Homo sapiens: one gene and its partners. The protein of the gene in region 7 purifies or fractionates together with the protein of the main gene of each other region. This does not show direct contact. Each region holds a gene or a part of one and is shown on either strand. Other genes may lie near its edges. The genes, in order: FARSB, NUP50, ADNP, FABP5, DSC1, NUP155 and SLX4.

What was found.
Region 1: the proteins of SLX4 (region 7) and FARSB purify together in Homo sapiens (affinity purification with mass spectrometry; 2 studies listed by BioGRID and IntAct, with this or other methods). This does not show direct contact.
Region 2: the proteins of SLX4 (region 7) and NUP50 purify together in Homo sapiens (affinity purification with mass spectrometry; 2 studies listed by BioGRID and IntAct, with this or other methods). This does not show direct contact.
Region 3: the proteins of SLX4 (region 7) and ADNP purify together in Homo sapiens (affinity purification with mass spectrometry, with the first as the bait; 2 studies listed by BioGRID). This does not show direct contact.
Region 4: the proteins of SLX4 (region 7) and FABP5 purify together in Homo sapiens (affinity purification with mass spectrometry; 2 studies listed by BioGRID and IntAct, with this or other methods). This does not show direct contact.
Region 5: the proteins of SLX4 (region 7) and DSC1 purify together in Homo sapiens (affinity purification with mass spectrometry; 2 studies listed by BioGRID and IntAct, with this or other methods). This does not show direct contact.
Region 6: the proteins of SLX4 (region 7) and NUP155 purify together in Homo sapiens (affinity purification with mass spectrometry; 2 studies listed by BioGRID and IntAct, with this or other methods). This does not show direct contact.

What each region holds. Positions count from the first base shown.
Region 1 is NC_000002.12:222,649,342-222,653,310, reverse strand, and holds part of FARSB (phenylalanine--tRNA ligase beta subunit), read left to right. Parts: intron 1-2,411; exon of another isoform or gene 2,412-3,025; intron 3,026-3,969.
Region 2 is NC_000022.11:45,166,730-45,170,698, forward strand, and holds part of NUP50 (nuclear pore complex protein Nup50), read left to right. Parts: intron 1-1,436; exon of another isoform or gene 1,437-1,438; 5' UTR 1,439-1,448; coding exon 1,449-1,517; intron 1,518-3,969. UniProt on the Homo sapiens protein: Component of the nuclear pore complex that has a direct role in nuclear protein import. Actively displaces NLSs from importin-alpha, and facilitates disassembly of the importin-alpha:beta-cargo complex and importin recycling.
Region 3 is NC_000020.11:50,900,097-50,904,065, reverse strand, and holds part of ADNP (activity-dependent neuroprotector homeobox protein), read left to right. Parts: intron 1-64; coding exon of another isoform or gene 65-69; coding exon 70-177; intron 178-1,956; coding exon 1,957-2,049; intron 2,050-3,969.
Region 4 is NC_000008.11:81,278,951-81,283,478, forward strand, and holds the start of FABP5 (fatty acid-binding protein 5), read left to right. Parts: upstream 1-1,585; 5' UTR 1,586-1,645; coding exon 1,646-1,724; intron 1,725-1,989; exon of another isoform or gene 1,990-2,094; intron 2,095-2,382; exon of another isoform or gene 2,383-2,474; intron 2,475-4,415; coding exon 4,416-4,528. UniProt on the Homo sapiens protein: Intracellular carrier for long-chain fatty acids and related active lipids, such as endocannabinoids, that regulate the metabolism and actions of the ligands they bind.
Region 5 is NC_000018.10:31,152,574-31,156,542, reverse strand, and holds part of DSC1 (desmocollin-1 isoform Dsc1a preproprotein), read left to right. Parts: intron 1-380; coding exon 381-500; intron 501-1,613; coding exon 1,614-1,769; intron 1,770-3,969. UniProt on the Homo sapiens protein: A component of desmosome cell-cell junctions which are required for positive regulation of cellular adhesion.
Region 6 is NC_000005.10:37,297,964-37,301,932, reverse strand, and holds part of NUP155 (nuclear pore complex protein Nup155), read left to right. Parts: intron 1-382; coding exon 383-496; intron 497-2,364; coding exon 2,365-2,485; intron 2,486-2,954; coding exon 2,955-3,065; intron 3,066-3,969.
Region 7 is NC_000016.10:3,594,607-3,598,575, reverse strand, and holds part of SLX4 (structure-specific endonuclease subunit SLX4), read left to right. Parts: exon of another isoform or gene 1-415; coding exon of another isoform or gene 416-576; coding exon 577-779; intron 780-880; coding exon 881-1,197; intron 1,198-2,182; coding exon 2,183-2,423; intron 2,424-2,882; coding exon 2,883-2,971; intron 2,972-3,969. UniProt on the Homo sapiens protein: Regulatory subunit that interacts with and increases the activity of different structure-specific endonucleases.

The DNA of each region.
Region 1 (3,969 bases), on a different chromosome or scaffold from region 7:
CCAGTCCCCACCTTCCTTTTTACCACCTCTTTGCTTAGCAAGGATATTTCTCTTTCAAGCTGTTTGCCATTTTGGTTATTTTGCTCTTCTGACTCCTTTGGAGCAGTTTTGTCTCCTTAGTCTACCTTTTCAACGGACTTTCTGTGCAGATGGTTTCCTCTTGCCACTCCTTTTCTTGTTAACTGATTTATTATCACTGCTCTTCAATTATAGTCCTGTTCTGGCGTGGTGTAATAGCTGGCAGTAGTGGCAGAACCTTCTGTGTATATCATATACACCCCTAAGGTGTGGTTACTTGATGTGTCATTTCGTTAGAGGAAATTAGTAATCACGATTTTATTGTTGATTTTTCTTTGTATAGAAACCCATGAAATAACAGCTGAAAGGAATAAAACATATGATAATTAGGATTCAGCGTATTTTAATAGTTCTGTACCACTTAGTTATCTATTACTGCATACTAAATTATCCCAAAGTTTAGCATCTTAAAGCAGCTATCATTTGTTATATAGTTTCTGAGGGTCAGGAATTGGGGACTGGCTTAGCTGGGTGGTTTTTGCTCTGGATCTGTTACCAGATTGCAGTCAAGGTGTTTGCCAGATCCGTAGTCATCTCAAGGCCTAACTGGGTCTGGAGAAACTGCTTTCAGGTTCATTCAAGTGGTTGTTGGCAAACCTCAGTTCCTTGCTGATTTTTGGCCATAGGCTTTAGTTCCTCCCACCTTATCCTCTCCATAGGACTACTTAGCACATGTTAGCTTGTTTGCCCCAGATGGAGAGGTCCGAGAGAGTAGGTAAGTAAGAGAGTGCCGAGGATAGACGCCTGTTTTCAATAACAGCTCAGAAGTGATACACTAGCCCTTCTCATATTCTCTTGATCACAGACCAATCCTAGCACAATGTGGAAGGGAACAGTACAAGGGTGTGAATACCAGGAGGCCGGTATTATTGGAGCCCATCTTGGAGGCTGACTACCACCGTTTCCCCTCTAACCTCCACTGATTCAGTTCCTCCCATATGCAAAATATACTCACCCCCTCCCAAGGCCCTCAGAAGTGTCATCCCATTACAGCAGCAGCTCAGAATCTAGAATCTCATCATCTAAATCAGGACCAGATGTGGATGTGGCTCCTTGGGTGTAGTTCCTTCAGTATAGCTTCTTTAGTACACTGTTGGCCTGAGAGACTCGAGAGACCATTTATCTGCCCCACATATACCTAACATACAGTGGTGGGATGGGCATAGGATAACTCCTGTAGCCCTTCCACTTCAAAGGGGCGGAAATGGGAGACACAAAGGAGTCATTGGTCCATGGCAATTCTGGAATCAAGTGGCAAATGTTGGATGTTCTTGATTAGGTCTGAAGGCCTGGAATAATTCTCCATGGCTGTCTGCCCTGCCCTCTAGGCTCTTGGTTTCCACCCCTCTGAGTGATCCCTAGAAAGCATGTGCTTTACAGCTGGTTGGTTTTCTCAGTCTACTTACTGCTAATAGAATTTTGAGAGTTCAAAGACTTTATTTTATCCTATTTCTATCCCTTTCAATTCTAGCTGGCAATGCTTCTGCATATGTATTTCTTCTAAAAACTTGGAAGGTCTTTGGTGCATGTTACTGGCTTCCATTTTATTAGTCAAAAGCCACACCACCTACACATCTCTGAAATATATTGAGTTTCTGCTGATAACAGTGCTCTTAATTAAGCCCTATTGTGTGATTAATTGGATTTATGAGGTGCATTCTTTATAATTTTTAATAGCACCCTTTGTTGGAATGATTAGTGCCTTTGATCTTTCTGGGTCTTAAGATTTTATGGTCATATCCTTGATTTTATCTTTGGACCATGTTTTCCTGGCAGTGCCTTGGATTTGGTCTTTGCTCAGAAGTTATTTCTTAATTTTAGCATTGTTTCACATCTGGAGAAGATGAGAATTTTTTAAATCCCCAACATCCTGGCTCATTTTTGTTTAACAGCCTTTCCTTTAGCTTATCTCTTTTTTTCACATAAGCACAAGAAAAACCCAGGTGGCACTGTGAACACTGGTTGGAAATCTTAGTTACATCACCCCATTGATTTTTTACAGTCCACATTACTGCAAGGAATGGTGTTGCTAAGCCTTCCGCCTCTTCTTAACCAGGATTCCTCTTCTTCTGCTTTCTGATAACATTACCTCACTTTCCTCCATGTCCTCACCTGCATCCTTACCAAAGACTATGAGGCTTCTTTCTTGAGGTTTTCATTTACACGCCTCAAAGCCCACTGCTTGGTTCCAAAGCCATTCCCATGTTTTTCATTTTTGTTACAGCAGTACACCACTTCCAGGGACTAAAGTCTGTATTAGTAATCTATTGCTATGTAACAAATTATTCCAAAGTATTAGTAGTCTGTTGCTACGTAACAAATTACTCTGGTACTTAGGAGTGTAAAACAAGCCTTTATTATTTTACAAAATTTCTGAGAGACAGGAATCGGGGAGTAGCTTAGGAAGGTGGTTCTGGCTTTGGGTCTCACCATGTTGCAGTCTAGCTGTCAGCTGGGGTTGCTGTCATTTCAAGGCTTGGCTGGGCTGGAGAATCTGCTTCCAGACTCACTCAGGTGATTGCTGCAGACCTCAGTTCACACAGGAGCATGAATACAAGGAGGCAGGGATCATGGAACAGGCCGTCTTGGAGGCTGGGTACCTATTACTACCTGCCCTAGTTAATGATATCCCCACCCATTTTTTCCCCCAAACCAGAGATCGGGGAGTCATCTTAGACTCCTTCTACACACTCCCTATTCCTACCTCCCATCATTCGGCCATCGAGCCTTATACATTCCACCTCTTTAACGTTTTTCATATTAATCCCTTCTTCCTCATTCTTGCTGGTGCTGCTTTAAATGAAGTCTTCACTATCGCATCTGTACTATTGCAGTAGACTCCCTGCTCCAATCCATCCTCTACTCTGCGAGCAGTCTTTAGAATGCAGATCTAATCATGTTTTTGCCCAGCCGAAGAATCCCTTCAGTATAATTCTCCATTGCCTGCCTGTAAGAAAGAGGGCAAATTGTTAGTTGACCCCTTTCTCCTTGTTCCATCATATCTTCTGATATGAACTTTATGTTTCATCCATGTTGAACTACTTAAGAGTTTCCAAATTTGCCATGCTGTTTCACGCCCCACAATCTCTGCCTAACGAACTCATCCTTTCTGTGAAGGTTTAGCTGACCATAAGAGAAACTGATTACTTCTTTTGTGCCAGCCCTGTACCTTGTACTTAACACAGTCATATTTATTTACACATCTGGCTTCTTTACTAGATGAGGAAGTAGTTAAGGCAGGAATTGTGTTTTATTTATCTTTGTAACCCTGGTACCTAGTACAGTGCCTGGTATAAGGTGGGTACTCAGTACATAGATGTTAAATTGAAATTTAGTGTCTGAATCAGGAATCTTAAGACCAGTTTTCGCTAGAATATACTGCTAATGATGTTTTGTGTTCAATTTTTGGTAATGTGAGAACCCTGAAAAGCTAAACAGTAGGATATAATATTAAAATAAGGAAGAGAACTTATTTTATTAATTGCTAATAAACTATTAATTATTGTAGACTCACTGTGTCTCAGGGTACTATGCCAGGTCCATTTTATGCATTAGCATTTAAATCTTTCCAATAGTACCATGCCATAATGGCTGTGAAATACCATTTTATAGATGAGGCAGCTGTAATGTTGACACAAGATACCAAGAAAGTTTACATAAGGTGCCAAACTCTCAGATCTAATAAGTGGGATAGAATTCAAACTCTGATTGACTTGGCTTCAAAGCCAAAAGTGTCAGGCCACCTCAGACCATTTTACCTGATAGGACTTATGTGACATTCTGTTGTGTGAGATCTGTGATTTGGAGCCTACTTTATATCTGATCTCTACTTAACAGGTGAACAGGTGTTTTTCTTCTGTGTACATGCAAACTTCCCAGTGCAGGTAACCT
Region 2 (3,969 bases), on a different chromosome or scaffold from region 7:
TCTATTCCTGTATTTGTTTTTGTTTGTATGACAAAGATTAATGGCAAAACTTAACCAAGTGTTTTTGGGTGGACATTAAAAAGAGAGGGTTCCCAGCGAATGGAAAGTGTATTTATTTCTCATCCTTTATATTTTAGAATCTTGGACTTTAATATCATTTGTAATCAGAAAAATAGCATAAACTTACAAAATTTAAAAATCACTAAAATGTATTAAAAGCTGACAGCCCGTATGTAATTACTCCACTGGCCATCAAATTGTAGAGGCCTTTGGAATACCAGCATTTGCATTTTACTTTTAGATACTAAAGAGTGATATGTCACCTCATATCTTAGCGACCACTTTGTGGGGTTGTAATACACTCTGTATTACACAATACACCAGAATAAGGAAGCTTACTCTGGTGTATTGTGGTGTTGAGAGCAAACAAGAGTGGGGAGAGTATCACGAAGGAGTTCAGGCAGGTTTAACAAGACCTGGCAGGTCCCCAAAACTAATCAGTAAGTTTTTGGGCGAGGTGGGTAGCAGGGGAAATGGAAAGGTTTTTTGTCCAGCTGGAGAGTTAGTGAAGAAGGCAGCACAACACTCATAGCGGAGCTCTGGGTTGTGGGTTTTCTTTGTTTTGTTGTTATGATATTAAGATCAGAAAACAAATCGTAAATTTTAAGGGATGGACAGGAGCACCCTCTTTGGTTAGGTGCCGGAATCCACTGCAGAGTTCACGCCGTTCCCCAACTCCTGCCCCTTCCACTAATGCCATCGTATTGAAGAGTTAAGCCAATGATTTGTTTTTGAAAGGTTATAAGTTCCCAGAATACTAACACACCCATGTTAATCATTTTGGACTTCTAATTGTCTTGGCAATATACAATTTGAAGCAACAAAATGTTCAGTCTTGGGAACCATGTATCTCTGTCGGCTGTAGCTTAAAGAACAGTATTCGTGTTGTGGAGGCGTTTCCAGCCCGTTATTCGTATTCTTACTGAAAGATACACTTCTTTAATGGGTCATCTTTAAGAGAATTTTAAATATTAAAATTATTTTCTTTATGACAAGACTTTCAGTATGTATATGCGTAGAATAAGTTAAGGACTTTTTGATTATATATACAGTACTTCAGATTCCAGATTTTTAAAAAATCAATTGATATTTCATTTTAATTTTTCCAAATGGAGTCGGTTTAGTGTTGTTCAGGACTGCTGGTGTTCCCTAGGAATCTTCTTCTGCCTCCTGGAAAAAGCCTTTATTGATTTGTAACACTGGGAGCCTAACAGCACCAATGTAAAGTTCTCATTAAAGCAGTTTCCAGATGCTTTTTTTCCCTGATAAAAAAACCAGAGATGTTTTTATCTCACTTCATGCTAGAGTGAATTTTTAAAATTCTTTATAAGAATTTATTCTTCTAGAAAAATAAACTCTTCTGTTTTCTATAACTTAGGTTCGAAAACATGGCCAAAAGAAATGCCGAGAAGGAACTGACAGATAGGAATTGGGATCAAGAAGATGAAGCTGAAGAGGTAAAAAGCAGCTTCCCTAAGAATGATTTCCTGTTTCTTTTGCCTTTTACATTCATTTTGGGGTTCCTCATGAAGACTTGTGACAGAACTAAAAGACCTTTCTAAGAACATCATGAATGGGAGATGACAAGAAATTATATGACCTGTACTTAGTGTAGATATTTATTAATTACATTTCTGTGACCTCTAGTTAGTGTAGAAATGTATTAATTACATTTAGATGTGCTTTTCCACTAGTGCCTGCTCCTTAAATATTCTCCTTAGTAGAAGCACTTTTCCTCCTGAGTTTCGTATACTTGAAGCATTCTGAACCCATGTTTGCAGTAAGCCATTTTAGTCATGACTGAAGGCTGAGTTAAGTGATGTAGTCATGAACTTAGCACACTGCCCAGATGTGAAAGTGGTACACCATCACCATCTTGGTCTGTGGTACTCCGTTTCCCTAATGCTTCTTGGAGGCCTGCTTTATTTCCTTTTCTTAATGGTAGACCTGAGACCCCTAACAATTGCATTTATAGGAATAGAATTGAGATTGGCCTAGTTCCTTTTCCAGCAGAATAAAAATGGTCTCCCCTGAGGAAATCTGATCATTTTTCCCTTATAAACAGTAGGACTGGGCAGCATAGAGAGATCCCGGTCTCTATAAAAAAAATTTTTTTTTTTTTTTTTTTTTGAGACAGAGTCTCACCCTGTTGCCCAGGCTGGAGTGCGGTGGCACAACCTCGGCTCACTGCAACTTTTATCTCCCGGGTTCAAGTGATTCTCCTGCCTCAGCCTCCCGAGTAGCTGGGATTACAGGTGTACACCACCACACCCAGCTAATTTTTGTATTTTTAGTAGAGACAGGGATTCACCATGTTGGTCAGACTGGTCTCAAACTCCTGACCTCAAGTGATCCACCCGCCTTGGCCTCCCAAAGTGCTGGGATTACAGGCGAGAACCACCGCACCCAACCCCCCAAAAAATTGTTTTAATTAGCTGAACATGGTGGCATGAGCCTATAGTCACAGCAATTTGGGAAGCTGAGGCGGGAGGTTTGCTTGAGCCCAGGAGTTCAAGGCTGCTGTGACCTGTGATTGCACCACTGCACTCCAGCCTGGGCAACAGGGTGAGACCCTGTCTAAAAAACAAAGAATAAAACACAGCTGTACTTATAGGATGTGGGCGAAGGATTACCCAGGTGCCGAGGCAAGAGACTGAAGGCACAAACTGTTTCAGTATAATACATAAAATAGTTAGAATAAGAATAGTCATAATACAAATTAGATACAGAGATGATCACGGGCATTATCAATCATTAGTATAAACATTACTAGTCATTAGCTTTTAATATTACTCTTTGTTGTACTACTAATATAACCAAGGAATAACCGGCAGATACAGGGTCAGGTGCTGAAGGGACATTGTGAGAAGTGACCTAGAAGGCAAGAGGTGAGCCAGCCCTCTGTCACGCCCGCATAAGGGCCGCTTGAGGGCTCCTTGGTCAAGTGGTAACGCCAGTGCCTGGGAAGGCACCTGTTACTTAGTAGACCGTGAAAGGGAGTCTCCTTTACTTGGAGGAGTCAGGGAACACTCTGCTCCACCACCTTCTTGTGGGAGATTGGATATTGTCCAGGCTTGCCAGTAGTCATCCAGAGGCTTGAACCCCTCCCTGTGGTGCTGTGCTTCAGTGGTCACACTCCTTGTCCACATTCATGCTCCTCCCGTAGTCCTGGTTCCTCTTTGAAGTTCTTAGTAGATAGCAGTAGAAGAAATAGTGAAAGTTTTAAAGTCTTTGATCTTTCTGATAAGTGCATAGAAGAAAATGCTGACGTACGCCGCCTTCCTTCTCTGCTTCAGCTACCTAAAAGGGAAGGGCCCCTGTCCCATGATCACGTGACTTGCTTGACCTTGTCAATCCCCTGGACGACTCATCCTCCTCACCCTGCTCCCTTGTCTTGTATGCAATAAATATCAGCACGCCCAGCCATTCAGGGCCACTGCCGGTCTCCGTGTCTTGGTGGTAGTAGTCCCCCAGGCCCAGCTGTTTTCTCTTTATCTCTTTGTCTTGTGTCTTTATTTCTTACAATCTCTGTTTCCCCCTTCGAGGAGAACACCCGCAAAGCCCAGTAGGGCTGGACTCTACAGTCGTACCTTATCAGCAGTGTGTTACCCCCAGGCCAGATGACTAAGGAAATCTGTAACCACGACTTTCAGGTTAACAGCATAGTGCTAAGTGAAAAAAGAAAAATGTTAAAACTGCAACTGTTTCCAAGCTTATTCTTAGACGGCCATCTTCCTTCTTTTGGAATCTTTCTGGTACTAGTACTTTTTTTCTCTACAAGTGTATCTCCTCACATATGTTTAGGGAAACCAGAATCCCAAGGATGTGAGTGTTTTGACAGGGTCAAAACTGATTTGGTGCTTTTTAACTAAAATCTTTGGTTATGGGGGTTTTTGGTTTTTTGTTGTT
Region 3 (3,969 bases), on a different chromosome or scaffold from region 7:
GGAATTAGTAAATATTACAAGTTGTACGTGTTTTGACTTTGACTTAAATTTTTTTTTCCAATAGAAACTATGTTCCAACTTCCTGTCAACAATCTTGGCAGTTTAAGAAAAGCCCGGAAAACTGTGAAAAAAATACTTAGTGACATTGGGTTGGAATACTGTAAAGAACATATAGAAGTAAGTAGCATGTCATTTTTAAATTTTAACATGACTCAGCTTCTGATCCATTACTTTGTGTCAGTGGCCAAGATGGCTAAATCTTAGATGTGATTCTGAATTTCAGCCACAGCAGTAGCTTCACGAAAACATTCTCAATAGCATTAACTTGTGCCTTTCTCCCTAAAATGGGCTTTTTCATTTTTGCATCCTGAAGCAGAAGGCTACCATTGAGGACTTAAGCATGTCAGGCGTTGAACTAGGTGCCGTAAAGTTGTCTATACATTTAATCCTTAGAACAACCATGGAGGCGGGAGGCAGTGTAGCAGTTCTTATCTCCACTTCACAGATGAAGAACAAATAAATAGGCCCAGCCTTGCAGCTGAGAAAGTGGCAGTGTCTGTGGGACTCAAAGCCTGTTCTCATTCTGATACGCCTGAATGTTCTGGTTGACCTTCTTCTAATTGTTGAGGCGTGCTTGTGTGGGTGCTTGTTGTCTCTTTCCTTAGGATTTGAGCATTTGTTGCCCCTTTTGACCCATCATAGACTATTACTTTCCCCCTTGTATAACAGTTTGGGCTTTATGAACTGTTTTTCAAGCTGTTTTATTCTATGAGCTTTATAACAGCTCTGTGGGATAGCCATGCAGTGGTCTCCTTTTCAACATCTCACTGTTCCAGGTCTTATGGTTTGTTGGTCAGAGCCCCTGATTGAAAAGAAATGTTTGAAGCTGTTTCCCCCACTAACCTTTAAGTTCTAGGTGGCTAGGGAACATAGCTACCTTGTTTATCCATTTAGCCCCAGCACCTAGCACAGTGTTTTGCACGTAATAGGTGATCAGTAAGTGTTTGAATGGAATTGGAAGTAAAAAAGCAAATTCATTCATACAACAGGTTTTCTTAATTTGAGTTCCACTAATAATACTTGAAGAGTATGGCATGGAAACAGAAGCTGCTCAAAAGTTGACTTCTCTAGTCACGTTGTTCCAAGTGTGGAAGTAGCCCTTCTCCAACCCCAGAGTTCAGGTAGATCTGCCCAAATGAAACAGTCCATTCACTTTGCACTCTGTGGGGTCATCTTCATAGAAATAATTAATACCAACATCACAGTACATTTCTGTCATGCATTTGATTTGTTCCTCCTATGATTATTTATGTGTAGACTTCATTTTCCACCTTGAACTGTGAACTTTTTAGGAACAAGTGGGATTTTACCCTAAGACTTTTAATCTTCCTAGTCTGGAGGGAAGTGGACCATTAAATTTTTACATGAGAGTATAAATTTAACATCATACTGCTTAACTTTCTTTGAATAGCTTTCTTTCTGCCTTTTTGGGTTTGAAATTTGAGTTTTCTTCCTGATCTGATCTCCTGCCCCCTCCCCTCGAAAAAAATCTTTTTTTTGCACAGAACCAGAAATCATATTTGCAGTGCTGTAAGCAAACATTGCTATTTTAGACACCATTCCAGTACTGTAACTGACGAGTTAGAGTACAGTACTCTAATGAAAAGTGCTTTGATATTAGTGTGTGGCTGAATTTTTTACTTAATTAGAACTTCCAGCAATTTCCTTGGAAACCTGACTGACCATCAGGAAAGTGGTTGGTTGATATAAAATGTAGACTGCAACTTCCATATGCCTTTTTATATTTAAGAGCCTTATCACTCCTAGTTTAAGTCCTTGTTGACGTTGGTTTTCCTGTGCCTCTCCCCATCTTAGTTAAGAGGTGAGATTTACATGTAAGATTGGGTTAGCGTTTATACCACTATGTTTTTGTAAACTTATTTCACTGTTTTCTAGGATTTTAAACAATTTGAACCTAATGACTTTTATTTGAAAAACACTACATGGGAGGATGTAGGACTGTGGGACCCATCACTTACGAAAAACCAGGTAAGTGGCACAGGAGACTTCCTCAGATGGCAGCATGCTTGGTATACTCCCTTTTCAGCTCTAGGCCTTTTATAGCGGTGCAGTGATTGCGGGCAAGTGCCAAACATCGAAAGTGTCAAAATTGCATTTCATATTTTCCTGACCAGTGGGAAGACTAAGAAAAACTTTTTGTCCTTTTTTGTCATTGGACTAAAACTTGAGGTGTAAGAAGAAACAAAATTTTGTTACTTAAAAGTTACGAAGCCTGCTGTATCCCACCATTTCCCCTAAAAGTGCTCTGGCTCTATTTTTCTGCATCTGTGTTGCCATTCTTGTTTTTTCTGCACAGAAAAAGACAAGACCCTTCCTTACATTTAAGCTTTTCTTATTTCCCTATGTTGATGGCACCCAACTTCTATGGGAGGCCTGGGGAAGTGACTCTGTAGGATGTCAGTGACAGAGAGATAAAACTTCTTACAAATTGGCATTAAAAACAATATTAGCACTGCCAGCAAGTATCAATAGATGATGATGATGTCATATAGGTGATATTTCCTTCTGCATAGAGAGAGGTAATTGTCAATTTAATTTTTACCATTACCTATTTTAGGAGTGATTCTCATTCTGCATTAATGATCTGTTCATCTATCGGAACATACTTTTCAGGAAATTAGTACTCAGATATTTGACTTTTTTTTTTTTTTTTTTTTTTTTTTAAATACCCCAGGCAAAGTTACTAACCAGCAGTCTTAGAATGAGAATGCTTTCCAGTGGGACACATCATTTATTTAATTCAGTTTTATCAATCTGAAAGCCTCATAGCTGAATACTAAAGAAGAGTTGAGCTTTGAGGAGAAGCAGAGTATTTCATCATGGTTCAAACCAGTATCTGAAACAAGTAGGTTTCTAGGGAGAAAAGATAATCTCTTACCAAGCATGTCAGTTCACCTGCCTTCATCAAAGGACTGACTGCATAGGTGTTAACAATCATAATTCTGAAAGTTGCTCTTTGATATCAGTATATTCTATAATGTATTATTGGCTTTTAAATACCTCACCCTCCTCACAGTCTGTAGGACATTTTTATTTAACTTCTTGATTTGAATCAAAGCAGCTATTACTTCATTAGCTCTTTTGAAGTGTTCTTGGTTGAGAAGGAACAGCAAGGCTTATAGAAGAAAGCCAACTTTTCAAATCAGTCTTTCTTTTGATCAGCGCTGAATCTGATACTACACTGTACTTTAATCAGAGGAAAAAATGGAGATTTGCCTTTTTTCTATGAAAATTTATCCATAATGAGGAAAGGAATAAAAGATATAGCTTTATCTCTTGTAATTGTCTAATTGCACTAAAACATCGTGGGCCCTGAATTTTACCGCAGTCATTCACCACATAACGACATTTTGGTCAGTGATGAACTACATCTACGACAGTGGTCCCATAAGAATATAATTGAGCTGAAAAACTTGCTACCTTATGACATCATAGCGCAACATATGATTCATGTTTGTAGTGATACTAATGTAAACACACCTGTGCTGCCAGTCATAGAAGTATAGCACATACAGTTATTTACAGCGTATAATACCGTCGTGCATTGCTTAATGATGGGATGCATTCTGAGAAATGCCCTGTTAGGTGATGTCATTGTTGTACAAACATCATAAAGGGTACTTACACAGACCTAGGTGGTATAGCCTCCTATTACCCCTACGCTATATGGTATGGCCTGTTGCTCCTAGGCTACAAACTTGTATGGCATGTTACTATAAGAGAATACTATATACTGAATACTATAAGAGTGATTAACACAATGGTAAGTATTTGTGTTTCTAAACATAGTGAAGCATAGAAAAGGTACAGTAAAAATGCAATATAAAAGAAAAATTGGTACACCTATATTGGGCACTTGCGGGACTGGAAGTTGCTCTGAGTGGTGAC
Region 4 (4,528 bases), on a different chromosome or scaffold from region 7:
TAGTCTATACAGAAATGGATAAGACATGTTGAAATAGCACATGAAGAGCTCAAGTTCAAACACACAGGCAGCCCTAAGGAGCTGCCTGAAGTGCCTGGTAGCCAGGGCTTCTCATCACTGAGTAAATGATGCACTCAGCTTCCCTCAGAACACGAATATTTTCTGAGCAGTAGGGCCTCGGGTGTGGGACATGCAGACCCTTATTGGGAAAACAATTGAGTGTTAAATGGTACCACAAGGAAGACTGGTGTGACCCTAAACTGAGGGCAGGGACTTGAAATGAAAGGGATGCAGTTCAGGGGAGTACATGTCCTGCAGCATGTTGGGAGATAGCAAACCAACCTCAGATTTCAATTTTGTCAAGGATGATACAAGAACTAGTAGTGTCTCGGTGACTGTGGTCTACTCAGAGCTCCATCACAGCTACCCTGAGCCCAAGGCAGTCAGGTGTGGTCTGATTTCATAAGGTCTTCAGTGAGACGGACCTGGATGGGGATTCTGGTTCTACCACTGTGAGAACTATCTTTGCCCTATTTTCTCTTTTGAAAAATTGGGATAACACCCCTAGCAAAAATATAGTGGAGACCAATGTCTATAAAGTGCCCAGGAAGCACATCTAGCACTTAGTAGCTACTCAATAAATGCACATTACCGCTATCGAAACGGCCAGCCTGTGTGGCAACTTCCTCACCTCAGTCCATCTGACTTCCAACAGGCACCCGGGAGCACCAAGTAATAAATTGTGAAGAGTACACTTTGAAACGTATCATGTTCTACGCACATGTGTAGGGTATTATTATAGTTCAAGAGAAAGAGGGAACCCGCTGGTGTCTGAGAAGAAACCCGCTGGTGTCTGAGAAGAAACGGTGAAGGGTGCACTACGAAGGGAATATAAACTAATCAAACATTCTTGAATGGCAATGACAGTCACTAAAGTTGACACTTCCTGCAGTCTTTTAGTTTAGAAACCACACTTCCCGAGACGTCCCCCATCCCAACAGGGATAAAATCCTCTAGCTCAACTCAGGTATATCCCCACTATTGGGCCAGGGAGACCTGCGGATGGCGAGAGCAGGTTCTCTTAGGAGGGTGTGGATTGTGAGCTTGTGCGCTGGCGAGGAGCAGAAGGTCAGGGAGGCACCGTAGTTAATGAATCAATAAACCAAACAGCCGATCAATCACTTCCTGCAGTCCGAGTCCGGCGAGGGCTAATCGATTGGTCCGGGTATTTTGAAAGGAAAAACGGCGGTGGATATGTTGTCAAACGGAGGGGTGCAGGAGAGGCGGGGCCAGGCCTCCAGGTGACCCCTCTGGCTTCCTGGGCCTGCAGAGGCGCCGAAACGTGCAGGCGCCGGCGTCCATGAGGCGTGGGGCGCGCCGGGCGAGTCCCTGCTTGCAGGAGGCGCCCGAGAGGCCGTCGCGTACCCTGGCAAGAGGAGCTGGTTAGCACCTCCCGACCCCGAGAAGGCCCAGGGGGCGCCCGGCGGGCGGGGCGGGGACCGGGCGAGGCCCGCCTCCCATTGGCCGCATAGCGCCGCCCAGCGCGGGCCGCCGTTATAAAGCAGCCGCCGGCGCCGGGTGCCTCACAGCACGCTGCCACGCCGACGCAGACCCCTCTCTGCACGCCAGCCCGCCCGCACCCACCATGGCCACAGTTCAGCAGCTGGAAGGAAGATGGCGCCTGGTGGACAGCAAAGGCTTTGATGAATACATGAAGGAGCTAGGTGAGGCACCCGGCCTGGCAGCGCCTGCAACGTGGCGTGTTGTGCGGTCGTCTGTCCCTAGGTCCCCGTCAGCGTGCCAGATTCTGGGGCAGGAGATGCTCGGCGGCCTACCCCCATCCCCTCCCATCTTCCCCACCACGCGGCCGTTGGGTGCAGCGCGCGCAGCACCACGCGGGCAGGCGGCGAGGAGCAGGGAGCGTGCGCGCCTCTTGCCCGCCCGCGGGCCGCAAGATTCCGGAGGTGGTCCACCCCGTGGTCCACCTACCTCTGCTTCTTTCCCTTCGCCCAAACGGCAGCCCTTCCGCATTGCTTCCTGTCCTTTAGCGCGCGCACCCGTCACCTCACGCTGCACTTCTTTCGACCCCCTCCAGGCGACCCTGTATTTCCCTTTTTTCCCCCTTTACTCATCCTTCCCCTTCCTGCCACCATTCTGTCTCTCCCATTTACCCCATCGTGGCAGCACCCACTCCCCTTTCCCTCCCTGTCGCATCTTTTGTTCCCTGTGGCGCGCAGGTCACCCTCCGTTTTCTTCATGGGGACGCGGTGCTGGCGCGCAGTTTCCCGCAGAAATCCTGTGGAGGGGTCTGAGTGGCGCTACAGCTTCAGCTTGCATTCCTCTGTCAGCCCCGTCTCCCCCAGGTCCTCTGCTCGCCCTTACCAGTTGAGCCGAACCCTTTGGATTGGTACCCCATGGAACACCAGGGCCCCCGAGAAGCGTGGCGCTGGCGGTGCCGACCTGCTGCTGGCACTGCCGGGCCGGGGCGCCGCAGTGGGCGGGTGGCCTGTGGGAGGAGCGCAATGAGGCCTGGGGGTGGCCGTGTGTTGCCATCCTGGCCTCTGCCACTTGAGGGTGAGGAGGAAGGAGGCAGTGGGCTTTGCTGGAAAACCGTAACAGAAACTGCCTGGCCCTCCTGCGGCTAACTGCATGCAAGATGGGTGTGGCCCTGCAGAAGGCAGATGACTTCTTGAAGCGTTCCGAGGGAGAATGAATCTCAGTAGTAAGATTCATTTCTCACTCAAAACAGTGCTTCATTATAAATTACTGTCCTTTTCTATGCCAGTGACAGATTGCATGCTGATTGAGACACTGGATAAATTGCAAACAAAAATGGACCTTTGTCACAGGCCACTAGGAAGTGAGATGGAGTTAGCATAGCATGGATCCTCTCTGGAAGGGAGCTTCCAGCCCTAAGGGATGGCTGGGATTTATGAGGGTGCTTCAGAAGCCGGTATCCACAAATGTTAACCCGGTTGCTCGCTGGTGAAATAACTACCGTGACCCTCTATTGATACCTGGTCGCCGTGGCACTTCGGAATCACTCCTTCAGTACCCTTTATCCAAGACCATGTGGTGTTAAGGCTGGTTTATGGTGAATCATGAGTGTATTTTTGATACTATCAGTAAAGAAGGCAGTATTTTTCTTTTTCCTTGTAAACCTACATCAAGATGACTCTGGAAAAAGCGATTTACTGCACCTGTCCAATAAATAACAGTGTGTGTGTGTGTGTGTGTGTGTGTGTGTGTACAAGTTTAAGGCCCAAAGAACACTTTTCTCTGCCTGTAGAAAGCAAATTGTGTGTAGGTTTGGAGGGCTTGTTTCCAGGATTCTGGAGTCTTGAAGGTTGTCAAGACTCAGTTCATTAGGGAGCAGTCACAATGTGAAAAGAGCAGAGCCCATTTATTTGTCCAAAGTGAGAGTACATAATGACTCAATTAACAGCATAAGGCACCAGCCCTGAGCTGGCAAAAGAGAAGGCTCCAAGGGGAACTTTAAAGCCTGGCTGGGTGTTCTTCATCAAGACAATCATGCTGCGTAGGTTGTAGTCTCCTCATTTATGAAACAGTGATTTGGCCTGGATCTAAGATTCCTTATACATGTTAACTAACTCTAAGGGGAAAGAGATAGATCATAAATTACATGTTAACGTTGAGGGGAAATTGATAGATCATAAATTAAAATATAATTTAATATGTTATATATTTCTATTGATTTATATACCTATGAAATAGTTTTTATATTGAAAGGTAGGATTTTTTTTCCCATTTGTTAGCATCATGATTGTGCTGCTGAGTTTTAAAAGATTGTGCTATTTGAATATCTCAGGATCAATTTCTATTTTGTGTAGTCTATTAATCAAATATTTATCGAGAACATTTATATGCCAGACTGTGCTGGAGTCATAGAATGTAATGGTTGGCAGAATCTAGTAAAAAGAAAAAGATTGAGCAAACTCCTGAATTTGCAATTTTGAATGCTTTATCTCCACCTTCTATCAACTGCTTTGAGTAAATAAAATTTGGAAGTCCACATTTCTTCCCTAACTTTCTGAAAGCCAGCATAGCATGGTGGCCAGAGCTCAGATTTGGAGCCAGGGTGCCAGTGCTCTTGGTTCCCAGCTCCATCACTTTCTAGTTGAATGATCTTGGGCAAGTTACTTCCGTGCCTCGCTTTCTCATCAGTAAAATGGAGACAGTAACATCTGCCTTTTACAGGGCTGTTGTAAGGCTTACCTGAATTTCATATATGTAAAGTGCTGGCTCATACCGTGGGATATATGTTTACAATAGTTATCAATAAGCAAATAAGTGAAAATATGCCGCACAAAGTGATTACAATGGAATTATTGCTTTTATCATGTAAATGATAACTTTGGTCTTCCTGTTATTTAACATGACTTAACATTCTACAGGAGTGGGAATAGCTTTGCGAAAAATGGGCGCAATGGCCAAGCCAGATTGTATCATCACTTGTGATGGTAAAAACCTCACCATAAAAACTGAGAGCACTTTGAAAACAACACAG
Region 5 (3,969 bases), on a different chromosome or scaffold from region 7:
TATAAATGATTGTATTGTGGAGTGAGGGTTTTAACAGATTTTGGTTGTGCCAGTCCTAGTGGAATAAAGTTGATCCTTAAATATTTATTAATGAATTATCTATTTTAGGGGGAGTTTATACTTTCTCAAAGTGGCATCTTTCCAAATGCCCTATACATTTCCTGGTGGTTAACTGAGTAAATAGAGAAATAGGTAGAACGGGGGAACATAATGTAGTCTGAGGTGTGTGTGTGTGTTTTATCAATAGAAATGCTTTGCTGACTAGCCATGATATTGTAATGTGTAACCCTTACATCTGCTTGTTGATGTATGTGTAAAATAATCACAGTTCCAAAAAATGATAAGCAATGCTACATTTCTTTGTTTCTTGTCAAATGTAGTCTCCTAAGAAGAGACATACCAAAGACACAGCCCTCAAGCGCAGCAAGAGACGATGGGCTCCTATTCCAGCTTCATTGATGGAGAACTCGTTGGGTCCATTTCCACAACACGTTCAGCAGGTGCATTTCACTTATTTGATTTTATATGTGTCCAAATTTTTTTTTGTTCTTAAACTTTTCATTTGAATTGCACAGCATATTGAATCAGAGGTTTAAACTAATGGTACAAATAATGATCATCTATTCACCAGAACTAGGGTCCCATAGAAGTGACCCAGTATATCTTATTACTTTCTTACAGATATCATATTTAGAAATTTAGAAACAAGTTTTATATTTGGAGTTTCTGGTGCTCTTAGGTCTATGTCTAAATTCACCCAAATACTATGCTAGACTTGTTAACACTAATGTACAGAAGGCACACCTACATGTTTTGCATAGTTCAATTCTTGCTTAAACTAACACTCATCTTTTATAAAAATGACCTGTATTTCTGCTTACCAAGTAAGATTGCCTCACTGCCACATAGCTGGATTGCAAACATAGAACAGTTTTGAAATTTTGGAGTATAGTGGCATCAGCTCAGCTCACCGCAACCTCTGCCTCCTGGGTTCAAGCGATTCTCCTGCCTCAACCTCCCGAGTTGCTGGGATTACGGACACCCACCACGAAGCCCAGCTAATTTTTGTATTTTTAGTAGAGGCAAGGTTTCGCCATGTTGACCAGTTTGGTCTTGAACTCCTGATCTCAGGTGATTCACCTGCCTAGGCCTCCCAAAGTGCTGGGATTACAGGTGTGAGCCACTGCGCCCGGCCAAAATTTTCTAATTCTTGAGGAATTAATTGTGGAAGAAAAGTTGCTTTACTTCTAGTTTTATTATCACATAATTTTCAATTCCAAAGAATTCAAAATCACGGAAACTGTTACTATTATTTATATGAAGATAAGAATAAATAGATAAAACTTGAAAAGTGTATTACTCTACATGTTTTATAGATATACAAATGACAAAAAAGTTGAGATCAAATAAGTGACAGAATTTGTGGCTTTGCACAATGCAAAATGCAAATAAAAATTCGGAAAACATGGCAGATAATGGGCACCTAAGCAGAAGAAAGAAAGAATAGGAGAGTAGGAAAGAGGGGTAGTGGTAAAAAAATAAACCATCACAAGAGGTTAGGTTGAAAATATTCATCATGACGTATTTGTTCTATTCCTAAATTATTACTGCAGATCCAATCTGATGCTGCACAGAATTACACCATCTTTTATTCCATAAGTGGGCCAGGCGTGGACAAAGAACCCTTCAATTTGTTTTACATAGAGAAAGACACTGGGGATATCTTTTGTACAAGGAGCATTGACCGTGAGAAATATGAACAGTTTGCGGTAGGATTATTGAAATATTTATTCATAATTATATCTTTATTACTGGCTTACTAATATTTTCAACTATGCTTGTTTACATATTATAAGAATCAATTATTTGATTTAATATTCAAGATATTAATATGCAATATAAACTTTAAATTTCTATTCACCATTGATGGGGAAAAACAGTGGATATAATAAGGGAAGTGGCGGGGGAGGTAAAGAAAATATAACGATGGAATTTTAAAGGATATATTTTGGTCTGTAATCCTGGAGAAATAACAAAGAGTTTTACTGAATTTAAAGTTATCCATAATAAAATGACTCAGTTATTCTCAACCATGGCTGTACATTATAAGTCATGTGAGAACTTGAAAAAAAATACTGATGCTTGGACCCATGCCCAAGTATTCTGATTTAATTGTTCTGGGATGAGATCCAGTCATCCAACGTGATTCTAAATGTGTAAGTGTTGGATCCACTGCCTTAGCCCCTTACATAGCTTTTTTTTTTTTGCATCCCTTTCTCTCACTATTCTTCAGCAATGAGATCCCTTAGTACCATTTTACTTCCTTAGTAACCCAGAACAAGTTTATCAATTCATTTGATTCTATCTTATCCTACCCAAAGACAAGACAATTCTAACTCTTCTGATAATTAAATCCTTTTGTTTCTGTTAATTTTATATAACTCTTTGGTGGACTGATGTCTCATCTGATGAAATGAGATATTCATAGTAGGTTTTTGGAATGGTGGTGAATAAAACTGATTAAGCATTTATTGTCTTGAATGATATAAGAGTATAATAAAGTTCTTTGCTAAAGGAGAATATAAAAATGAAACTTATCTCATACTTGGGCAGTTCAGAGAGTAATATCTTAGCAGACATCTGGAGAATGAGTAGTAGTTAGTGGCCACCTCAAGGCAGTTATGAAAGAAGTTAACAATTGTGGGGATGGGAAGTGGTAGACAAGTATTCCAGGAAGATGCATCAGAAATGGAAATATTTACTTGTTAAAAAGAAATCAACAACAACAACAAACCCTGGCTGAAGTGTAATTTGAAGCTAAGGAAGAGTGTGAAATATGAAGCTAGTAAGTAAAAAATAGAGAGGGAAAGACCTTATAATTTATCCTAAGGAGTAGATTCTATCGTAAGGATATCCTCCAAAGCAGTCTATAAGGTAGTGAAAAATTTGAAACTGTATAAATTTTCCACTTTAGATGTTTCATAATTAAATACAAAATTCATGGTGGGATTGTAGTGGCATATTTTCTTTATAATTTTATGTTCCCTTCCAAATTCTCTAGAATAAACATATTTTACTTCTAGTAATATAACACACTTTTACTTTAAAAAATAGTGTATCCAAGTTCTTACAGGAGAAGTAAGCTAAGCACCATTGCAATCACTTTGATCTTTCTACTCATAAACAAATAAATAATTGATAGTAAGTTCTCTGCTGCTTTTACAGTTTCTTTACTAGAGAAAAGATCTAACACTAGAAGTCACTCTTGAGGAGATATAAAAAGCTCATACTCTGTATGTTGCAATATTCACTTCATTTTCAATTTTGCTGAGGAATTGTTTGATAGGGTTCTGTTTGCCAACCTGCTTTCTATCTTTGCTTCTTACTGTGATCATTGCCAGAGGGAAAAGGAGAGAACAGTTTATAATTAAAAATAAGTTACTTTGCTATTTTTAACATTTAAAAAAATGTAAATGAATAAAATAGGTTGAAATTTATCCTCAAAGTTAAACTTTTAAATAATTTCGCCTCAGAATTACCCATGTTTCTGTAGGTCCCATTAACACAGTTAAGTTTGAATTGGCATTAAGAAACACCACTTGCAAATTAGTAAAATTCATTAAGTGAGGTATAGCAACAAGATGTAAACCTGATGCAATTATAAAATCACTTGAAGCAGGATAGAATAGAAGACTTCCCTGTCAATGCAGAGGTTAAAATAAGATAATATGTTTTTAACGTAATATACTTTAATAATAGTTTAAAATATTGAATAATGTATGTTTCTGGGAATTGGTAGATCCTAAGTATCTGTTCCTTTCCTTGTAGCCTCAAACAAATCACAACCTCCTAGAGTTCGCTTTCTTCTTTGTTTATGGGCTGCTAGTAGCTGTGTTCCCAACCTCAGTAGTGTTCTGATCATTAAATGCCGTAATACCAGTGATACCACTATGTAAACTGTAAAAGTTG
Region 6 (3,969 bases), on a different chromosome or scaffold from region 7:
GGAAAAGAAAGAACACATTCACTGTCTTAAAAACTATAGCCCTGACATGACACACTACTTCTACTCACATTCCTTTGAAGAGAACTTGGTTGTATGGCCATACCTCCCCTACAGAGGAGGCTGAGCTGTATAGTCTAACCATTTGGCTACAGTCTTGGAAGGTATAAGTATTGGGCAGCAAGGAGTCTGCCACAGTATACTTCCTGTGAAATCTATTATGTTTAGTTGATGTCTGTTATGATAATATTAGCCTATTATGATAGAAATCTTCATTTATACATTATTTTAGCAAACTTAAAGTCAGATAGTAGGATCCGTTCTTTCAAACGTATGTTGATTTATCATAAATAAATTAAGACATCCTGTTTTCTGCCCAAACTAGGTTGCTAGGATCCAACTTCAGATACAGGAGACACTACAAAGGCAGTATTCCCATCATTCTTCTGTACAGGATGCAGTTTCTCAGCTGGATTCTGAGCTGATGGACATAACTAAGGTAATAAAAAAGCAAGTGAAATTTTTATAGTAGTTACCTAATAATGAGAAATTTTTGTTTTTTATTTTGCTTTTTGTTTCATGGGGAAAATTACCTTATCTCCACAAATAAGATAAGGCATCTTTGGCAGCTTGTCACTGGGCTGACAGATCACCACTGCTTCATCTGACTCCTAGAAAAAGGCTAAGCTACTCTTTCCAGGCCAGTAGCTACAAAGAACCTATCATCCTCGCATGAGAGCTGTGTTAAAACCAGCTTATTTCCAGCCTGGGCAACATGGCAAAACCTCATCTTTACAAAAAAATAGCAAAAAAGGCCAGGCACTGTGGCTCACGCCTGTAATCCAACACTTTGGGAGGCTGAGGCGGGCAGATCACCTGAGGTCAGGAGTTTGAGACCAGCCTGGTCAACATGGGGAAACTCTGTCTCTACTAAAAATACAAAAATTAGCCAGGCGTGGTGGCATGCGCCTGTAATCCCAGCTACCTGGGAGGCTGAGGCAGGAGAATTGCTTGAACCCAGGAGGTGGGGGTTTCAGTGAGCCGAGATCATGGCACTGCAGTCTAGGAGCCTGGGCGACAGAGCAAGACTCCATCAAAAAAAAAAAAAAAAAATTAGCCAGGTGTGGTGGTGTGTGGTTGTAGTTCATCTACTCAGGAGTCTGAGGTGGGAGGATTGATTTAGCCCAGGAGGCCCAGGTTGTGGTGAGCCTCGATGGTGCTACTGCATTCCAGCCTGAGTGACAGAGTGAGACCCTGTCTCAAAAAGAAAAAAAAACTAAAAAACCAAAACCATCTTATTTATGGCCTCGCTTCTTGCCTTGGAAAAACTAACTTATCTTTGCTTAACTCTCTAAACCTCTTTCTCTCTCTGTAATTTTCTGAGCAGTTCCTTCCTCTTCATTTATTCTTAGACATAGTTCCAGGTACCCTGAAACACTTTGAGATTTGTCAGTATTCCTGTGATTCTTCAACCCATTGTTTATACAACACTAGTTCTAAAATACCATTGCAGGAGGTTTGTAGGGAAGGTGGGGATGGTTAATGGGTACAAAAACAAAATGAATAAGACCTATCTGATAGCACAATAGGGTGACTATAGTCAATAATAACTGTATATTTTAAAATAGAGAATGTAATTGGATTATTTGTAACTCAAAAGGATAACTGCTTGAGGAATAGACATTCTCCATGACATGCTTATTTCTCATTGCATGACTGTATCAGAACATCTCATGTACCCCATAAATACATACACCTACTGTGTACCCACAGAAATTTGAAAAAATGAATTTTAAAATTAATAAATAGAATGTCGTTGCAACATCTTCTTCCCAGCCAAGAAAAAAGCTCTACATGCTAAAATGTGTTTGAATGTATTTACCATACCCTTACCCTTTTTTTTTTTTTTTGGCGGGGGGAGACAGAGTCTTTCTCTGTCACCAGGCTAGAGTGCAATGGCGTGATCTCAGCTGACTGCAACCTCCACCTTCCTCAGCCTCCTGAGTAGCTGGGACTACAGCCATGCACCACCATGCCCAGCTAATTTTTTTTTTTTTTAAATTTTAGTAGAGACGGGGTTTCACCATATTGGCCAGGATGGTCTCCATCTCCCGATCTCGTGATCCGCCCACCTTGGCCTCTTAAAGTGCTGGGATTACAGGCCTGAGTCACCGTACCCGGCCCATACCCTTAACTTTTTAAATATGGAGTTATAACCAGCTACATACATCATCACATCTTTATATCATATTTCAGAAACTTTATGTAAAATCTTTGGTTATTTTTTAATTTTCAAGGAGTGCTTCACTATTAATCTCTGAATGTTGATCTCTAGTTGGATGTTAATTTTGGGATTTTCTCTCACAGCTTTATGGGGAATTTGCTGACCCATTTAAACTTGCAGAGTGCAAACTTGCAATAATTCATTGTGCCGGTTATTCAGACCCTATATTGGTGCAGACACTTTGGCAAGATATCATAGAGAAAGGTAAGTGTTCAGTTATAGGTATGTTAGCATACGTTATGTAGTGACTTGGTGGAGGAATGCAAGCTGCTAGTAACTAATATAATGCAAGCTGCTAGTGGCTCATGAAAATTGTGTATACCTAAGAAGAGAGTAAGTGGAAGTCACCTGGGTATGGTGGAGGATGATCATACACAGAATGACCCAAGTGAATATTCGGGAGAATACTCAGTGAAAAGGTTATTTAATTTATATTATTTGTGCTGCCTTATAAAAGATACTGAGACACTCACCTCAGAATCTAATAACCAGTATAACCTGGTAAGACATGAGAGTATCTCAGACAATAACAGAAACACCAAATCTGTTAATCATATTAATGTGACTATCTGTTCTAAAGTATTTTGAACCTTGAAACAGAATTAAATAACCAATGTAAACATTTCACATTAAAAGTAATTTGGGTTTCAAATGACATGTCTTTTTGTTACAGAATTGAGTGACAGTGTGACATTGAGCTCCTCGGATAGAATGCATGCTCTTAGTCTCAAGATTGTTCTCCTTGGCAAAATTTATGCTGGCACACCACGCTTCTTTCCTTTAGGTAAGCTGTGATCTTAGGTGCAGTCACGTATTTTCTGTTCTGATGGTTTTCTCCGTTGATATGGACAAATAACGATCTTTCGAGTAAAATAAAGAGTTTCTTTGCTATTTAGTTCAGCACTTTAATTCTGCCTCTCCGGAAAGACTTCCAAAGAATGGCAGAATTTGTTAATGAAGAGTTGAGTATGAAACTTTCTGTGACTAACTTTCCAAGTTTATATTACCTGTCTTAGGATTGTGCTGACTGACAAACTATGATTATATTGTTGGTAACCCTATACAAGTTTCTGAAGAGAAAAGAAAAACGGTTGATGTTTTTGTGCATAGGTAATCTGTGATTGATTCAACTGTTCTTTTTTTATGTTGAGGGCATGTTTTTCTTTAAAATAGCAAATAATTATGTTAAAACTTAGTGTTTGAATCCCTTTCTTAATGAGATATGGTGGCTATAATTTTTAAATAAGGTAGCTAATTATGAGCTATTTGCCAACCTACAAGTGTTTTCCTCAGTGGTAAAACAATAGAAGCAACATAAATACATCCATAAATTAGAATATCAACTACTTTTGTGTTATTTAAAAATATTGAGAGACATGAAAATCCTCACAATATAACTTTTTTTTTTTTTTTTGAGACAGAGGCTTTCTCTGTCGCCCAGGCTGGAGTGGAATGATGCCATCTCGGCTCACTGCAACTTCTGCCTTCCAGGTTCAAGCAGTTCTCCTGCCTAGCCTCCCAAGTAGGTGGGATTACAGGTGCCTGCAACCACGCCTGGCTAATTTTCTGTATTTTTATTAGAAATGAGGTTTCCCCATGTTGTCTAGGCTGGTCTCAAACTCCTGGCCTCAGGTGATCCGCTTGCCTTGGCCTCCCAAGGTGCTGGGATTAAAGGCGTTCGCCACTGT
Region 7 (3,969 bases):
CTCCTGTTCATTTCCTCCAAACCAAACGAGCTGCTGCCCGTTGAAAGTGCAGAGTCCCGGGGCGGCTGGTATAATGTTGACCATCGGCAGCCTAAGCTGGGAAGCCCTTCCTTCTGGCCATGGACAGAGGCACTGCCGTGGAGCCCTTGCAGGAGGGAAGGGATCCTTTTCTGCCGGTGTGGCCAGGACCGTGTAAGGAGCATCGGAAGTATTGATGGGTGAAGGTGGTGGGAGTCCAGGGAGCCTGCTCAGAGCCATCGATTGTTGACTCCATTGGATGGGCTTGGCCACATGAGGATGTGCAGGTACCACAGATGGCTCCGTACATCTGCCATGAGCCTGCTGGACAGCAGCACGTGAAGGAACCCAGACCCTCCTGTGCCTGGGCCATGTTGAACTTCTGGCCTGGAATTGAATGAGTTCACACAAGGCAGTGGAAGTGGGGGACGCATCTGCCTGGCAGGTCCACATCCGTCACTTTTCTCTCAGGCCCAGCCCTCTCCAGACCAGTGTGACCAACCTGAGAAGCGTGCACTCCTCTAGCCCCAGTAACTTTTCTCTTTGGCTGTTTTCTAGCTTCAGTGATCACAGTAGAGGTCTGAAACGGAGAGGACCCACCAGCAAGAAGGAGCCACGGAAGAGGCGGAAGGTGGACGAGGCACCGTCCGAGGACCTGCTGGTGGCCATGGCTCTGTCCCGGTCGGAGATGGAGCCGGGTGCGGCTGTACCAGCGCTCAGGCTGGAAAGTGCCTTTTCTGAGAGGATAAGACCAGAAGCAGGTTTGTGTGATCAGAAGAGTGACCCTGGGAGAGGCCATCAGCAGGTCCCGGGTGAGTGGACCGACTCCACCGTTGATGGTGTCGCTTTTGTTTCTCTCTAGAGAATAAAAGTCGCAAGAAGAAACCCCCGGTATCCCCCCCATTGTTGTTAGTCCAGGACTCTGAAACCACAGGCCGACAGATAGAGGACCGTGTGGCCCTGCTCCTCTCTGAGGAAGTGGAATTGTCTAGCACGCCACCACTTCCTGCCAGCAGGATTTTAAAGGAAGGGTGGGAAAGAGCGGGCCAGTGTCCTCCTCCACCTGAACGCAAGCAGAGCTTTCTGTGGGAGGGCAGCGCACTGACTGGGGCCTGGGCCATGGAGGACTTCTACACGGCCAGGCTGGTCCCTCCTCTCGTGCCCCAGCGGCCTGCCCAGGTGAGTCCCTCCCCTCAGGCACATGGATAGGCTTTTGGGGGAGGTTGGCAATCCCAGAACTGCAACACTGGGTACCCACAGCCAGGTGATGGAAAGTCCAGGAAGGAAAGGCAGAGGCGGGAGGAGGCCAGAGGGGCACTTGGTGGCTGCAGCTTTCTTCTCTGTCCAGCAACTACATGGTACTCTGGGTAGGATCAGGGAGGACCCTTGGTGTCCACCAGAGTGTGTTCCTGGAGTTTGTTGAAAATGCAGAGTCCCGGCCGGGCGCAGTGGCTCACGCCCGTAATCCCTGCACTTTGGGAGGCTGAGGTGGGCGGATCACGAGGTCAGGAGTTCGAGACCAGCCTGGCTAATATGGTGAAACCCCATCTCTACTAAGAATACAAAAATTAGCCAGGCATGGTGGCACACACCTGTAATCCCAGTTACTTGGGAGACTGAGGCAGAAGAATCGCTTGAACCGGGGAGGCGGAAGTTGCAGTGAGCCGAGACCGTGCCATTACACTCCAGCCTGGGCAACAAAGTGAGACTCTGTCTTGAAAAAAAAAAAAAAAACAGAGTCCCAGGGCAACTGGCAAAATGCCTCAGATGGAGCCCGGAAACTGGCATTCGGAGCACACACTCCAGACAGTCGTGCGGCAGGTAGCCCTACAGTCAGTACGCAGCTGCCTGAGGCAGCTTGGAGGACTTCAGGAGGGCGGCAGGCCTGGGCCCCCCTGGCCTCTGACAAGCCTTTGTGCAAACAGATGCCACAGGCCTGGCCTTGGCCGTGACAGAGGAGGAGCATGTTGACATGAGTGCTGGGGAAAAGCATCCCAGGACTGCTCCAGGCTGTGGCTGGAGCCCCGGGGACAGTCTGTCCCCACAGCCCACATCCTGCTCTGTAGTTTTAGGTCCAGCCGTGCATACCACATGTGATGGCTTCTGCAGTGTGTGCGTCAATGACAGTGACCACGTGGTCACTCTCCTTACTGGCTTCTTTCAGGGCCTTATGCAGGAGCCCGTGCCGCCTCTGGTGCCACCTGAGCACTCAGAGCTGAGCGAGCGAAGGTCACCCGCTCTCCACGGCACCCCCACTGCAGGCTGTGGCTCCAGGGGCCCGTCGCCTTCGGCCAGCCAGAGGGAGCACCAGGCCCTGCAGGACCTCGTGGACCTGGCGAGGGAGGGACTGAGCGCCAGCCCGTGGCCCGGCAGTGGGGGCCTGGCTGGCTCGGAAGGGACTGCAGGTGAGATGCTGGGTGGGACTCTAGGGCCAGCCCTGCCCTCCCGGGCCTCCCCTCCCCGCGGCTGAGGCTGCCATGGACTGGCTCTTGTGCCGCCGCGACGGCAGCTCTGACCTGGTGGGAGAACACGCAGCCTCTGGGCGCTTTCATTTTTTCTCAAAGGTCAATGTGGTGTAGACAACTCTGTCATGATTTTCCTTCCACTTTAACCAAAGACAGAGCTGTCTGCCCACAGCGAGTGAATCCTCTGGGTGAACTGTCTGTTTTGCTCTTCTCTTACCTCCCTGGTGGAGTGGTGGTGAGACAGGGTGTGCGGGTTTGCTTTGCATGAAGGTGTCCTCGGATAGCAAGCACCTTCCGAGGCACCGCAGGGGCTGGCTCAGCCTGTGGTCAACGCTGTCTTCTTGGTGGTGGATGTGGCTGGGCTGTGACGTTCCTTTAACCTGTGAATCCTCCACTCAGGGTTGGACGTGGTGCCCGGCGGCCTTCCTCTGACTGGGTTTGTGGTGCCATCGCAGGACAAGCACCCGGACAGGGGCGGCCGCACCTTGGTAAGAACTGGCTCTGGCCCGCGCTCTCTGGTCCCGGCCATCCCACTTGCCATGTGTGTGGTGGGGTTGGCTCACCGCTGGCCTCTGGCCCCCAACGCAAGTGCAGTGGCCTCTCAAGGCCTCTGCTTTCCAGAAGGCTGCCACATCCTGACATCCGTGAGCAGAGCCACGGACCCACAGCCACCTCAGCGCCCCTCTGGGGGCTCTGCCACGAGACTTCTGCCTTTTCTGTCTGTGACTCCATGGGGCACCTTGGGGTTGAGGCCCCAGAGCCTGCCCTGTCCTGGGTCCCAGGAGTGTAGAGGGACCACAGTTTCTCAGCGCGGTTGCCCCATCCAGGCACGCTCTGCTCGTTCCTCAGTAGTTGGGAGCTCACCAAGGGCTTGCTCTCCCTCCCCTCTGTGCGGGTCCTGGGCTCCAGAGCACAGCTGAGCAGCCTGGCCTGGCCTCCCTGTCAGTGCGCTGTCTGGGGAAGAACCGGGGTGGGAACTGGCTTTTCCCTAGAGTGGACCTCCTCCCATTTGCATGTCAGTGTCAACCAAGCACTTCATGCCAAGGCCAGCCTAGGGACATCATCACAGACTGGACCCGGCTGTCCTCTTGGCCAGGTCCCCGAGCTGCTTGGACTCAGGGTGCTTGTCCGTCACAGGGGATGGGTGCACCTCCTCAAAGCCCAGGTATCCCGCAGCCTGTCCCACTCAGTGCGGGAGCTGCCAGCACTGTGAGTTCACATCTAGCCCCATGTCTGGCATCTCCACGGGGGCCAGGGAACCCACTGGCAAGAGCCAGAGGAACAAGCTAGTGCTTTGCTCTTCTGTGCTACTCAGGGCCTTAGGGTCACTCAGAGGTTGAGGCCATCGTGGGAAGCGTTTTGGAGAGGAAAGGAGAATGCAGGTCCTGGCTCCCGGCCCACCCTAGCGCCACCTCCATGCGGGGAGCTTCCCACTGCCCAGTTAGCAGAGCAGAGGTGGGGAGGTGACGGCTCTTCCTCTCCTCCT